3 linked regions of the Homo sapiens genome follow. The protein of the gene in region 2 interacts with the protein of the main gene of each other region in a biochemical or structural test. Each region holds a gene or a part of one and is shown on either strand. Other genes may lie near its edges.

Region 1 (3,500 bases), on a different chromosome or scaffold from region 2:
GCTCTCAGCTGTCCCTTGTTTACCTTGGTCCTCATGAGCCTTTATGGGTGGGAAGGCGACATCAGGGATACTTTTTCTCCATGAATAATCAGCATGGGGCATCCTCAGGAGCGCGACAGCAGATGTAAAGCCCAGGATGCCAGACTTGTCCATAGTTACTAAAGTGGTGTATTTCTTTACATTTGCCATGTTGCAGATCATTTGTTTTGATAAGCATGACATGATGGCTTAATGACATTATGTTGTTTTGGGGCAACAATGAACTGGTCTAAACTATATTTTGGGTTTTTCGTTTGTTTCTTTGGGGAATGATTTTCTAATTATAGAGGAAGATTTAGCCTGAGAATAGGAAATGTTGTAGTACTGAGTGTATGTATGTCTATGTGTACATTCTTGTGAATGTGTGTTAGTTGGGATTCAACCTGATGGAGCATCCAAGATTGTTAGAAAAATATGCAGAAGCAAAGTACATGACCATGGTATTTTTTGTAGGCTGTTCTTTAGTAAATGCTCCCACTTGTTGCCATTGGATTTCTTCCTTCTAGTTACTTCCTTTTTCATTGTGGGACACCAGATTTCCAGCCTTCTTTTTTGCGGGGAGGGAGTGTGATGGACATAGATCATTTATTCAGTAAGCATCTTGTAATATGGTAAGGAAGTATGATATAATATACCATTTATATTGGCAGAGAACAGGTTTTCTTTTCAATTAAAAGTAATTCCTCACTAGTGTCTCGTCATAAAAATTCTGAAGTAGAATTACACCTAAGGCATGTGTCATTATGGGTTGCTCCCCTGGGAGGTTCTTCTTAAAAGACCCAAGGCAAAGAATTGAGTTTTACAATATGCAGTGTTATGTGAATGAATGTAGGGCATCCATTTTGATTATAGGCATTTATTAAGCATTTCTTTTGCAACTTAGTGGTACTTTAGTCAACTATACTTTTTTAAAAATGGTGCCTTTTGGCCAGGTGTGGTGGCTCATGCCTGTAATCCCAGCACTTTGGGAGGCCAAGGTGGGCAGATCACCTGAGGTCAGGAGTTCAAGACCAGCCTGGCCAATATGGTGAAACCCCGTCTCTACAAAAATACAAAAACTAGCCGGGCATGATGGTGGGAGCTGTAGGCATTATAGGATCCCAGCTACTCGGGAGGGTGAGGCAGGAGGATCGCTTGAACCCGGGAGGCAGAGATTGCATTGAGCCGAGATCGTGCCATTGCACTCCAGCCTGGGTGACAGAGTGAGACTCTATCTCAAAAAACAAACAAACAAACAAAAATAGTGCCTTTGTATAATTTACTTAACTCCAAATGCCATTTTGTTTTTAATTTCCTTATTAAAAGTCTTCACCTAAGGCCTTAATGGTTTTTCTTTGGAAGTATTATGGTGGCTCCAGGTAATCATCCAGATACTAATTCTGGATGTGGTGGAGGAGGCAGGCAGCACCCTCGAGCAGTGCTTCTCAGACTTCAGTGTGCAGGAGGCACCCGGGCGCTTGTTGAAATATGGGTTATGATTGGTGGGGTGGGGGTGGGGCCCAAGAGTTCACATTTCTATCCGAGGCTGCTGGTCCAGGGACCACACATTGAATTGCAAGCCCTAGGAAACTGATGCTTTTGTGGGTTGATTTTAGCTGTGTCTGGGATTTTTTGTTTTGTTTTTCAGAATCAGCATCATCAGTTTATGTTTTAATATTTTGTTGCCTGCTGTTCAAAAGTCAAGTTGAGAGTCAGGGGATACAAATCCTGCTTAGTCAAAAGTTTTTGTTAAATAGGAAATTTCCTTTAGTCACCCTCTGAATCTGCTACTCTCATTAACGTGAGTTCAAATCTAGCTGGGCGTGGCTGTGCGCACCTGTAGACCAGGCTATGCGGGAGGCTGAGGCAACAGGACTACTTGAGCCCAGGAGTCTGAGGCTGCAGTGAGCCATGATCACTGCATCCAGCCTGGGTGACAGAGTGAGACCCTGTCTAAATAAATAAGTAAAATCAAGTACAATGGTAAAAGTTAAAAAACAAAGAGGTAGCTCAGGATTCCTTTTGGTAATATCCCAAAAACAATATATATAAATAGCCCCACATAACACAAATAACAAAGTTTTAGGCCACACTTTTAAAGAAGAAAGCGAAATGCTAGTTTTTCTAAGCTCTGAGTTATGTGTATAGACCCGAGGGGATTTTTGATGAGTCTCAGCAAATCTCCTTCCTCCTCCCTTACAACATTTTGCTTATCCCCGTCTCTGCTTTTTCAAACCCTCTCTGCTATTATTTGCAGTTTTTTGGCCCTAGAAAAGATCAATTGAAGATTTTCTTTCTTTCCCTCTTGTGTCTATGTTGTTATTTTAGGAATAGAAGTCCCTGAGGGACTGTTCTCAACAGTTGCTTGGGTTGAAAAATACAAAATCAATTTCTTCATCCAAGTTTGACTCATTGATTTCTGTGAGCAAGTTATTTTGCTTTAGCATTGGCACTTAGCCTTATGAAAATACAGTACATGCAAGAAGGAAAGTTAGTGAGAAATACACAAGTACTAGTGATTCTTAGGAGAAGGTTATAGTACATAAAATATTATTCCAATGATTGGTTTCTCTTTTTTTTTTTTTTTTTTTTTTTAAGACAGAGTCTTGCTCTGTTGGCCGGGCTGGAGTGCAATGGTGTGCCCTCGGCTCACTGCAACCTCTGCCTCCCAGGTTCAAGTGATTCTGCTGCCTGAGCCTCCGGAGTATCTGGGATTATGCACCACCACACCCAGCTAATTTTTTGTATTTTTAGTAGAGACAAGGTTTCACCATGTTGGCCAGGCTGGTCTCGAAATCCTGACCTCAAGTGGTACACCCACCTCAGCCTCCCAAAGTGCTAGGATTACAGGCATGAACCACCGGCGCCTGGCCGGTTTCTCTTTTATAAATGGTCAGTTTTGGGGGAGAGTTTAAGTTTTTAGTGATTATAAAATGGCCATTTGCTCAGCCTGTCTGATCCTGACTACAATGATGACAGGAAACCATGTGGCACCATGACATTGAGCTGATCTTCAGGACGTGATGACAAGTATATTGTCTGTGCTAAAATGGATTTGGTAGATTGCATAACTTGAGCCATGAGGCCTGTCGTTCTGCATACTGATGGTTTTGGTAGGTTTGGAGATGAGTATATCTGTTAGCAATGGAAAATAATTCTTTTTTTATTTTTATTTTTTATTTTTATTTTTGAGACAGAGTATCGCCCTGTCGCCCAGGCTGGAGTAAAGTGGTGCGATCTCGGCTCACTGCAAGCTCCGCCTCCTGGGATCATGCCATTCTCCTGCCTCAGCCTCCCAAGTAGCTGGGAATACAGGCGCCCACCACCACGCCCGGCTAAATTTTTGTATTTTTAGTAGAGACAGGGTTTCACTGTGTTAGCCAGGATGGTCTCGATCTCCTGACCTCGTGATCTGCCCACCTTGGCCTCCCAAAGTGCTGGGATTACAGGTGTGAGCCACTGCACCCGGCCGGAAAATAATT
Region 2 (5,185 bases):
CTAACTAAAGTAGAGAGATCTAGGAAAAGCAAAAAAACATGATGGTCACTATTAAATGAGGAACAAGACAAGGATATTTGTTATCACTACTATCATTGAACATCATGCTGGAAGTTCAGGGCAATGCAATTAGAACCACACACTATTAGAAAGAAAAAATGATCATCTTGGAACATAAAATTTTCTACCCAAAAAGCCCAAGAGAATCATCCGAAAAAGAAAACTGTGTAAAATGACAATCTTTAGCTTATCTATGTATCAGCAATAGCAGGCTGGAAAAATAATAGGGAAAAAAATCCCATTCACAAAAGCAAAAAGTAAAATTAAACACCAGTATATATAAGCAAACAATATATTACAAAGGTAGCACCTCAGATCAACAAGAGAAATAATGGATCAGTAAAAAGAAATATTGCCACTACAACTGGAAAAAAATATTTCTCCAACTCAAATAACATATTTAAATACATTCCACATAATAAGTTCTAAATACAAAAATAATATTTTTGTATTTAGGGTAATAATATATTAAATATTAAAAATTACTAAATAAATAATTCAGGGTAATTATTTAATTGAATCTTGGTATAAGGTATTTCTAAACATAAAAGAAAACATAGGGAACACATAAATTTACTACATAAAATTTTAAAACTACCATATTAAAACAATTTAAAAAGTATCAGAAAACTGGGAATGTTTTCAACATATATTAAACAGTGAGTTAATCTTATATAAAGAGAAAAAAGATAAATCAAAAATAGGCAATGAACATGAACAAATCTACATTGCAAAATACCAAGATAATAAAAAGGAGCAAGAAATACCAAATAAAATTAGAAATATTTCTTCTCAGCCATCAAGTGAAAAAAAATTCTATTATAAAGTAGGTCTACCATAAAGTAGGTCTTCCATGTACCACAGGTAGATATTTAATTTTATTTGCAGGCTTTCAGGAGCCTGAACCCTGCGTTTTTTGGATAGTGAACTGATTCCTGCTTTTTTTGGATAGTGAACTGATTTTCTTTTTTTTTTAAAGAATTCAGAGAATTATACAGTTTACTTTTGGCCCAGTAATTCCACTTTTAGAAAAATATAGATGTGTATGAATATATTCAATGTGGCAACAGTTATATTAGCCCCTCCTCCAGTTAGTTTAATATGTTAACCTCATCCATTCCGTGAAATACACTGCTAATCATTATGAAAACGCTTTCTGATAACATTTCATACATTTAAAAAAATACTAGGATAGCTTGTAAACAAAATATATACAATGCGTTATAATTTCAACTTGGTCAAAACACACTCAAACTCACATTTACACACAAACACATACACAGAAAGAAAGAGAGAAGAAAAAAAAAAGGCTGCAAGGAAATACATCCAAAATGTTAACTGCAGTATTCAAGGGTGTTTGGATTACAGGCAACTTTTCAGAATTTGGAAGAAAGTCATGTAAGCTACTTGGCAATCAGAAAATGAATCAATAAATGTTACTTATTTAGAACAACAGGCAAACTTCATTAACATTTGAGGGTTTTTTCGTCTCACAAGTATATCCCCTCTCCTAAATTCTGGACTTGCATTTTCAACTGCCTCCTCAACATACCGTTTGGATATGAGATAGGCCTCTAAATTTATGTCTAAAATCAAATACTCAATTTCTCCCCCAAATTTCCTCCTTCCCTAAACTCTTTCCCATCTCAGCAAGTGATAATTTCACGAATCCAGTGGCTTCAGCCAAAACCCTTGAAATCATAGTGGACTATTTTTCTCACATCCCACGTTCATTGTGTCACCAAATCTCATGATGTTGGTTTTTAAAATGTGCCCAAATCTGATCATTTCTTACCACCTTAAGTGTCACCAGCCTAGTCTGCTAACTGGTCTCCCTGCTTCATACTTCCCCGCTACAGCCTTTTCTCAACACAGCACTAGCGTGAGTCTTTTAAAATGAAGTCAGTCATATTGCTCTGCTCGAAATACTCCAATGGCTTCCCATATCCCATGTCACTTAGGAAAAATTCAAAGCTTTTGCCTTGGCTTAGACAGCCCTTGGCCATCTTTCTCCTCTCACTGTTCTCCCTGCTCCCTCTCACACATTGGTTCCATATCAAGGTATTTGCACTCACTGGTCCTTTGTTCTTGAATGTTCTTCTCTCACATATGCATATGGATTCCTTCTTCACTCAGTCAGTTCTCTGGGTCCAGTACAGTCTCCTCAGAGAGGCCCTGTCTTTAACCATTCCATCTAAAAGTAGTCCTCTTTCTGCCACATTCTATCTGGTTACTCTGCTTTGCTCTTCGTCCTTGCATTTTTACCTCCTTTCATAACATTTATGAAATATGTTCACTTTCTGGCTCCCCCACTAGAAAGTAATCTTCATAAGAGTGACTTTCTCTGTTTTGTTCAAGGCTCTGTTTTGTTCAATCACTGTAGGTGCTCAATAAATATTTAATAAATGACCAAAAAATGAAAAAAGTACACAATAAAATTTTGAGGGACCAATCATCTAGCCAGCCAACTAGCCATCAGCAAAATCTGATGCAATCATACTTTGACACCACTGGAGAAAGAACGAAACATTGGGGGATAAAGGGTTAGTTTCCTCTGGCCCACACTTAAGCTCTGTCCTCCCTGGGCAGGAAGTAGTTAGTAAACAGTAGTCACTGCCAAGGTTTCCTTTTCACTGTCCCCTTCATTTCACCATAAACAGTAGACCCAACCTGAGCTAGAAGGATCTTAGAAACCACCCGTTAATCCAACCCGTTACTTCAAAGGAGAGATGATTTCAGCTACAGAAGTCAAGGTCAAATCCAAGACCAAATGTTTCTGTGCTTCATCCATTGCTCCATGGAAAGGTAGTGATGGGGGTAGTGGGGGAAGGAACAGTATTAACAGCCAACACTAATTGAACTCTTACCATGTGGCAAGAAATGTTCCACATGCTGTACATGTCTTAACTCATTTATTCTTTCCTGTAACTCTAAGAGATGGGTTCTACTTATCTCCATTTTACTGCTGAGAAAACTAAGGAACAGGCAAGTTTAGCAACTTGCTCAAGTCTACCCAGTAAATGGCAGAGTGGATATTTGAACCCAGGCCATCTGGTACCAGTCTATGAGCTAAAACCAAATCCATATTATCTCATATATAATGAAATGGTGTGTGCTATTGTTAATGACATTAAAAACTTTTTATCCCCATGGTATAATTAAAAAACTAACACTTCAATTTACAGTCTGTCTCTCTGTCCTGAATGTGTCTAGCAAGCAGCATTTTAATACCTACTATTTCTGCCAAAACTCGGTAAACAGGCTCTCTGTTCTTTCTTGGAGGAACAAAGGGAAAGATTTTAAGCCAAATTTGGACAAAACCAACAGCACTTTGCCTACAGCAGTTTCTCAACCTTGCACCCAGAGCCTCGATTCATGTCAGAAAATCTTTCAGTAAACCAGTGAAAGATCCAGATGTGGGAAAGAAATATAAACAAGGCACTGCCTTCCCTTCACCTGCAGACAGAGAAGAACCAAGAGTGATGGGATTTCACACTAAGAGGATGCTCGTGGGTGAAGAGTTTAAACTTCTTGGAGGAAAATTTGGCAGAAACTATCCAAAACTTGAGAATAGTACTTAATGCTGGACCCAGCAATTCCACTTTTAAGAATCTATCCTTAGAAATGCATCTAAAGATTTGTCTCTGTCACTCATAAAATTGTTTATAGGAGAGAAAAACTGGGAAGATTCTGAAAGTCCATTAGAATTCTGATCAACTGCATATATTGTTATTGACTTAATATAAATTATTGCATATCTATTTGATGGACTATCACATAGCCACTGATGATGACATCATGTAGTCACTGAAAATGGGGTTAAAAAGCATATTACGAAGTATTTAATATACCATGTCCCATTAAAAAAAAAAACAGTTTTTGTACAGGAAAAAGCCTAGCAAGATGTTAAGATTATTGATAATTTGCTTCCCTTTGTGTTTTTCTGTATTTTACATTTTTTTTAAATGACTGTATAACACTATGATCAGTTTTAAAATAGTAATTATAAATACTGGGTGGGGAGAGTGGTATGAAATGAAGACATGATTGCTGCTTTTACAGCTTGCTAAAGAAAGTGTTCACCTTGTCTGAAAATGCAAGTGTTTGGAATGGCAGTAGTCCAAATTTGAGTCCTTGCACAGGTGAAAGACTCGAATTTCTACCCACTCATGAGATCCTAGCAATTATTTTCTATAGCTTTATACATCTTACCAGAGGACATCTGTCCTGGAGCAGTAGTTTTATACTACTTAAATTTTAAGATCTATTCTGCAGATGTTTGATTCAAATCTTTTTCAGAATAATAAAAACTATAATAAACAAAACACACTCAAATAAGCTAGTACTAACATCAAGATATGGTTGATGTGTGTTGCTGGTTTAACTAGGTTTTGTAGAGCCCACAAACTGAATGTTGGCCTGAGACGGTGAAGCCATTTAAAAAACTTGCCATTTGTAATCACTTATCTTTGCAAATCAAGATTTTCTCATTAACATACAAGTAAAATAAAGCGTAACTGAATATTAAGGTTTTTAAAGACTGCTCCCTGCTACCTTTGACTTCTAATGCCTGTTTTCATCTAAAAATCCTCGTTGCCCTCTTGGACTGAATAAAAAGTAAAAGTCATAAATATGAACTTATTAACAGAGTTTATAATAGTTTTTCAACCTTGGAACTGATGTTTGGACCAGATTATTGTGCATGCTATTCTCCATCCTATACACCGTCCACCAGCATCCTGGCTTCCGCCCATGAGAGACCATCAGCACTCCTACAGCTGTGACAATAAAAAATGTCTCCAGACATTGACAAATGTCCCCGTACAGACAAAATAGCCCCTAATGAACAACCACTACTTAATACTAATCAAATGCTACATTTATGTATTTTTATGTTGGGGTTTACCTAACCATTTAGTTGATTAAAAGTTTTTCTGCTTAAAAATACATTGTTTTCAAGTGTAAAGGTTTCTACTGTTAGATCCTGAATTCAAACCTTGGCTCTAGCTCACTAGCTGTTTACCTTTACCTAACCATTCTGATTAGCAGCTACCTCATCTGAAAAAGGGGACTAACACATGCACTGGATTAAATGAGAAAACTTATGTGGAGGAATGATTAGGAG
Region 3 (4,042 bases), on a different chromosome or scaffold from region 2:
CAAGGCCTCCTCGGGGGCCAAGGCACCTCCCACTCCAAGCTTCCTTACTACTGCTCCTTTAGCTCCCCCCAACCTGAAGAGTCTCCCTCTGGCTTCTCTTCCCTATCACATCTCCCAGGAAAGATTAAAAAAAAAAAAAAAAAAAAAAAAAACCCTGCTACAGAGAGATTATATAACAGCAGCCAGAAAGACTATCATATCTCCCAGCCTATGAGAAGAACCAGGAGCCAAGGGGGCAGAGCCAGGATGCCCAGGCCCTCCAGCCCAGGGGCACCAAGCACAGAGTGGGGTGGACACGGACAGCACCTGCCACCCCTCCAAGTCCTCCACCAATCTTTCAGGCATTGAGTACAGCAGACAGAAGCTCTAGCCAATTCCCCATGCCCATCCCCCAACACAAGGATCATGAGGCTCTCTGGGTCCTGCTTCTTCCCTTGGACTGGGGCTTCCATGAACACGGACTGTATGTCTCCCTTCCCAGAATCCCTCCCTACTATGAAGTTGTGCCTAAAAGAGTGGAAAGACGAAAGCTCTGACACAGATTTGCTGTGTGATCTCAGGTAAAAAACTCAACCTTTTGGGTCCCTACAGGGGTGAGTAAAAGCTCCTCCCTTCCTCCCTTCCCCCCTCCCCCCCTTCCCCCCAGAGAGACCAGAGACCTCTCCCTTTACAAATGTACATGCACACACATACATATACACACATATGCAAACATACAGGGTGTGTTGGCGGGGGCAGGGGAGTTACAACAAAGAGAATATAATCACTGAGACCCAAAGGTCCAAATGCCTATGCTGGGGCAAGTGGGGAAGGAGCTCCATATAAGCTCCAGTGTCCCCCAATCACCCCGTATAAAGAGGTCCTCAGCCACTCCCACAATAGTCCTACCCCACCCCCATCTCCTGCCCAACACACTGGGAAACCACAGGAAGGAAATTCATTCCCAGGCAGGGCCGTGGGAGCTGGGACAGCCAGACTAAGTCCTGGGGCGGGTGTGACCCCGTGGCCACAAGCGGGTGGACATCTGTGAACACTGACATGTGCCTTTTCAATGCTCTCCTCAGCTACTGAGACCTTCCTGTTGGGGTTGGGAGAGGAGTGGGAGGTGGACAGCTCCCAAACGCCAAAACACCCAATCTCAGGCTGACCTGCGCTCCCCTCCTATCTCCAGGCCAGAGCAGCCCAAGGTCACCGCCCCAGACGGCAAACTTCCCATAGTCTAGGCTGGACCCTGAATTGCTGCGGAGACCCACTGAAGGGATAGGAGGAGGAGTGGATAAGGGCCACCTCCACCCCAAAGCAAAGAAACCAGGACTCTGAGGAAAACTCAAATGGGGGTTGGGCACAGCAAAGAGGGACACAGGATCCCCCCCAACCCGCTATACCCTCCCCCAACCCATCAACAATGCACCAAGCAATGGGAGGCAGAGGGAGGCTCCCATTCAGAAGGGCAAACCTGGGATAACCCGGTCGGTGGCTTCTAGAGTGCCTTCCTTTCAGGAGGAGTCCTCGGAAGGCTGCTGAGAGGACAGCGTGATTCACTAGGGGGAGGGGGCCCCTTTCCCCATCCCCCTAAGACCCGAACCTGGTAGGAGAGAAGCTGGCATTGGAGTGGGGGACTAAAAGCATTTTGGTCTCCTTGGCCCATCCTCCCAAAAGCCCCCCCAAACTCCCTAAACCCCCGCTCGCAGCCCAGCTCCGCCTGCCATAGGTGGAAAGGACTAGAGAACTCTTGCCCAGATGTTGAACAGCTGCAAACTTCTGGCCAGGGAGTTCTCCAGTTGGGGTTACTGACAAACCACATCAGGGGTCTCGGAAGCGGGGCTAGGAGGTCTCAAGGAAGGGTCCTGCGTGCCCACCTCGTGGCGACTCCGCGTCCCAACTCCACAGGCACCCGGCAAACACGGGCCCCGGAGACACACACACTCACACACCCCAACCCACTACCCCGGTGTCATCTGAACAACATCCCCCCTCCCTCCCCCGCTTCCCAAACAGCTGCGGCTCCCCCCGCCTCCACCCTCCCGCCGCCCTCCCAGGCCCCCTTCTGCACCATTTCGGGCCAAGGAGGAGGGAACAGGCGGCGAGAGGAGGGAGAGGGAGGGAGGGCCGGCTGTTAAAATGTCAGTCGCTCCCGACTGTCACCGGAGACCCCCTCGGAGGATGGCGCCCCGTCCCAGACCGCTCGGAGGCCGTCGTAAACCCCCTACACGAACAGGCGGGCGCGCCCCCAATCCGCCCGTCCCCACCCCGTACTCCCAACACCCAAGGGAATTGCAGCCCACTCCACTTGTCCCCCACGACAGACTCCCTGACACAAACAGTCCCCTAGGTAATCCCCGCCAACGCCACACGAAAACACGGCCCGCTTCGCGAGTTCCTCCCGGCCCGGGGGCTGCCCCATCCCACCCCTCAGGGGGACGGTCTAGACCACCCTCCACCCCAACCCCTGGACCGGGTGGGGGAGGGGGCCTCTTAAAGTGGCAGGCGCATTATTTTTCTCTACTCACCAGCCCGGCTGGGGGAACGGTGTTGTCACGGCAAAGAGCGGGTAGCCCTCGCCCCTGGTCCGGGGGATCTTCAACACCGGGAAGCCGCAGCTCCGGGCGGGGAGAATAATAAATGAGGCCGGCGTCCGCGCGGGCCCTGGGCGGCGCCGTGAGGCCTGGGCCCCCGTCGTGGGCGCGGGGGCCAGCAGGCGGGCGGCAGGCAAGCGGGGAACCGGGGCCGAGCGCCTGAGCCGCCTCGGCTGTTGTTGATATTTTGCTTCCTTCCTCCTTTCGGGCTCCAAAGGTAACTCCTCCAGCCCCCGGGAGTCGAGGCCGACGTAGGCACAGCTCAGCCTAGCTTGAGGGGTGGGGGGAAAGGGGTGACGGACAGGCGTGGGGGCCAATGGGAGGCACCTGTGGGGGTGGCGGGGCGGAGCCGGGGCTGGGGCGGTCCCGAGGACGCGGCCCCGCCCCTCGCTTCCCCAGGGCTGGCCGGGCCAGGCCGGGTCGGCCCCCACCCCACCGCCCTCCCAAGCTAGGCTGCGGCGCTGGGAGCGGCGGATCCCTCCGCCTGCCGGGAGGGAGGGAGGAAGGGACGAAGCGAGGCAAAGTAGGGAGGCGAGACCCAGAGGCCTTTAAAGGGATCGGTCCGCTCCCACGGTGCCCCTCGGAGCACGCCGGCCGCCCGCCCGCCCGCCTGGCGCTGCTGCCACCGCGTGCTCCAGGAGGTCCTTTCCGGGGAGGCCGTGCGAGCTGCACGCACACTCTCAACACGCGCCACCTCGGCACCTCCTCGCGGCCCCGGGCCCCAGGAGAGTTGGGAGGTGGGAGTCTAAGTAGATAAATTAAGGGGAGACTGGAAGTGGTGAAAAGCTCCCATCTCCCCCACTTGGTGTGTGACAAAGCCCCACTCACGGGCGACATTCTTGGGGTTGGGGGGTGTTACCTAGGGAGCTCAGTTGCTCCCTCTACCTGTGACAGGCCCCCTCCGGTCCCAGGGCCCGGCTCGGCAGACGCCCAGCAATTTAAAGCGACAGCTCATAGTTCTTGGGTGACCTAATCTCCAGTGCTTGCGGGGCCCCACAGCACTTACTGCCGAGGGGGCAATTTAAAGGGGCGGGACCCTAATTCCTCCCCACCTCCCGCCGCACAGTAAACACCCAGAAATGTCTTATTAAAGAAGCAGTAGTAGCTCTTTAAAATTTTTTATTTTTATATTCCTGGTTGCTCCAGGGTGTGGTGAATATTTACGTGCCCTACAACAGGAGTGTGGGTGCCATGCCTACTGGACAACTGACCCGTCAGGCTTCAGCATCCCTGTTACTTCCAAGTCCTGCTGCTTTCTCCCAAGAGCGTAAGGAAATGATGGCATCTGGCTTAGATCTCAAAGAACCTTGCAGAACAGAAGGGCACTCACTCAGTTCTTCACACACCCCGAATTTTTTTTTTTTTTTTTTTGAGACGGAGTCTTTCTTCGTCGCCCAGGCTGGAGTGCAGTGGCGCGATCTTGGCTCACTGCAACTTCCGCCTCCCAGGTTCAAGCGATTCTCCTG

What was found. Proteins that work in one complex are often made in the same cells at the same time.
Region 1: of the proteins of SKP2 (region 2) and CDC14B, one has a biochemical effect on the other in vitro, tested with the Homo sapiens proteins (one study listed by BioGRID).
Region 3: the proteins of SKP2 (region 2) and MEF2D form a complex in vitro, tested with the Homo sapiens proteins (one study listed by BioGRID).

The regions. Positions count from the first base shown.
Region 1 is NC_000009.12:96,518,844-96,522,343, reverse strand, and holds part of CDC14B (dual specificity protein phosphatase CDC14B), read left to right. Parts: intron 1-3,500.
Region 2 is NC_000005.10:36,171,799-36,176,983, reverse strand, and holds part of SKP2 (S-phase kinase-associated protein 2), read right to left. Parts: intron 20-5,185; coding exon 1-19. UniProt on the Homo sapiens protein: Substrate recognition component of a SCF (SKP1-CUL1-F-box protein) E3 ubiquitin-protein ligase complex which mediates the ubiquitination and subsequent proteasomal degradation of target proteins involved in cell cycle progression, signal transduction and transcription.
Region 3 is NC_000001.11:156,497,976-156,502,017, forward strand, and holds the start of MEF2D (myocyte-specific enhancer factor 2D), read right to left. Parts: upstream 2,801-4,042; 5' UTR 2,511-2,800; intron 1,906-2,510; exon of another isoform or gene 1,457-1,905; intron 126-1,456; exon of another isoform or gene 1-125. UniProt on the Homo sapiens protein: Transcriptional activator which binds specifically to the MEF2 element, 5'-YTA[AT](4)TAR-3', found in numerous muscle-specific, growth factor- and stress-induced genes.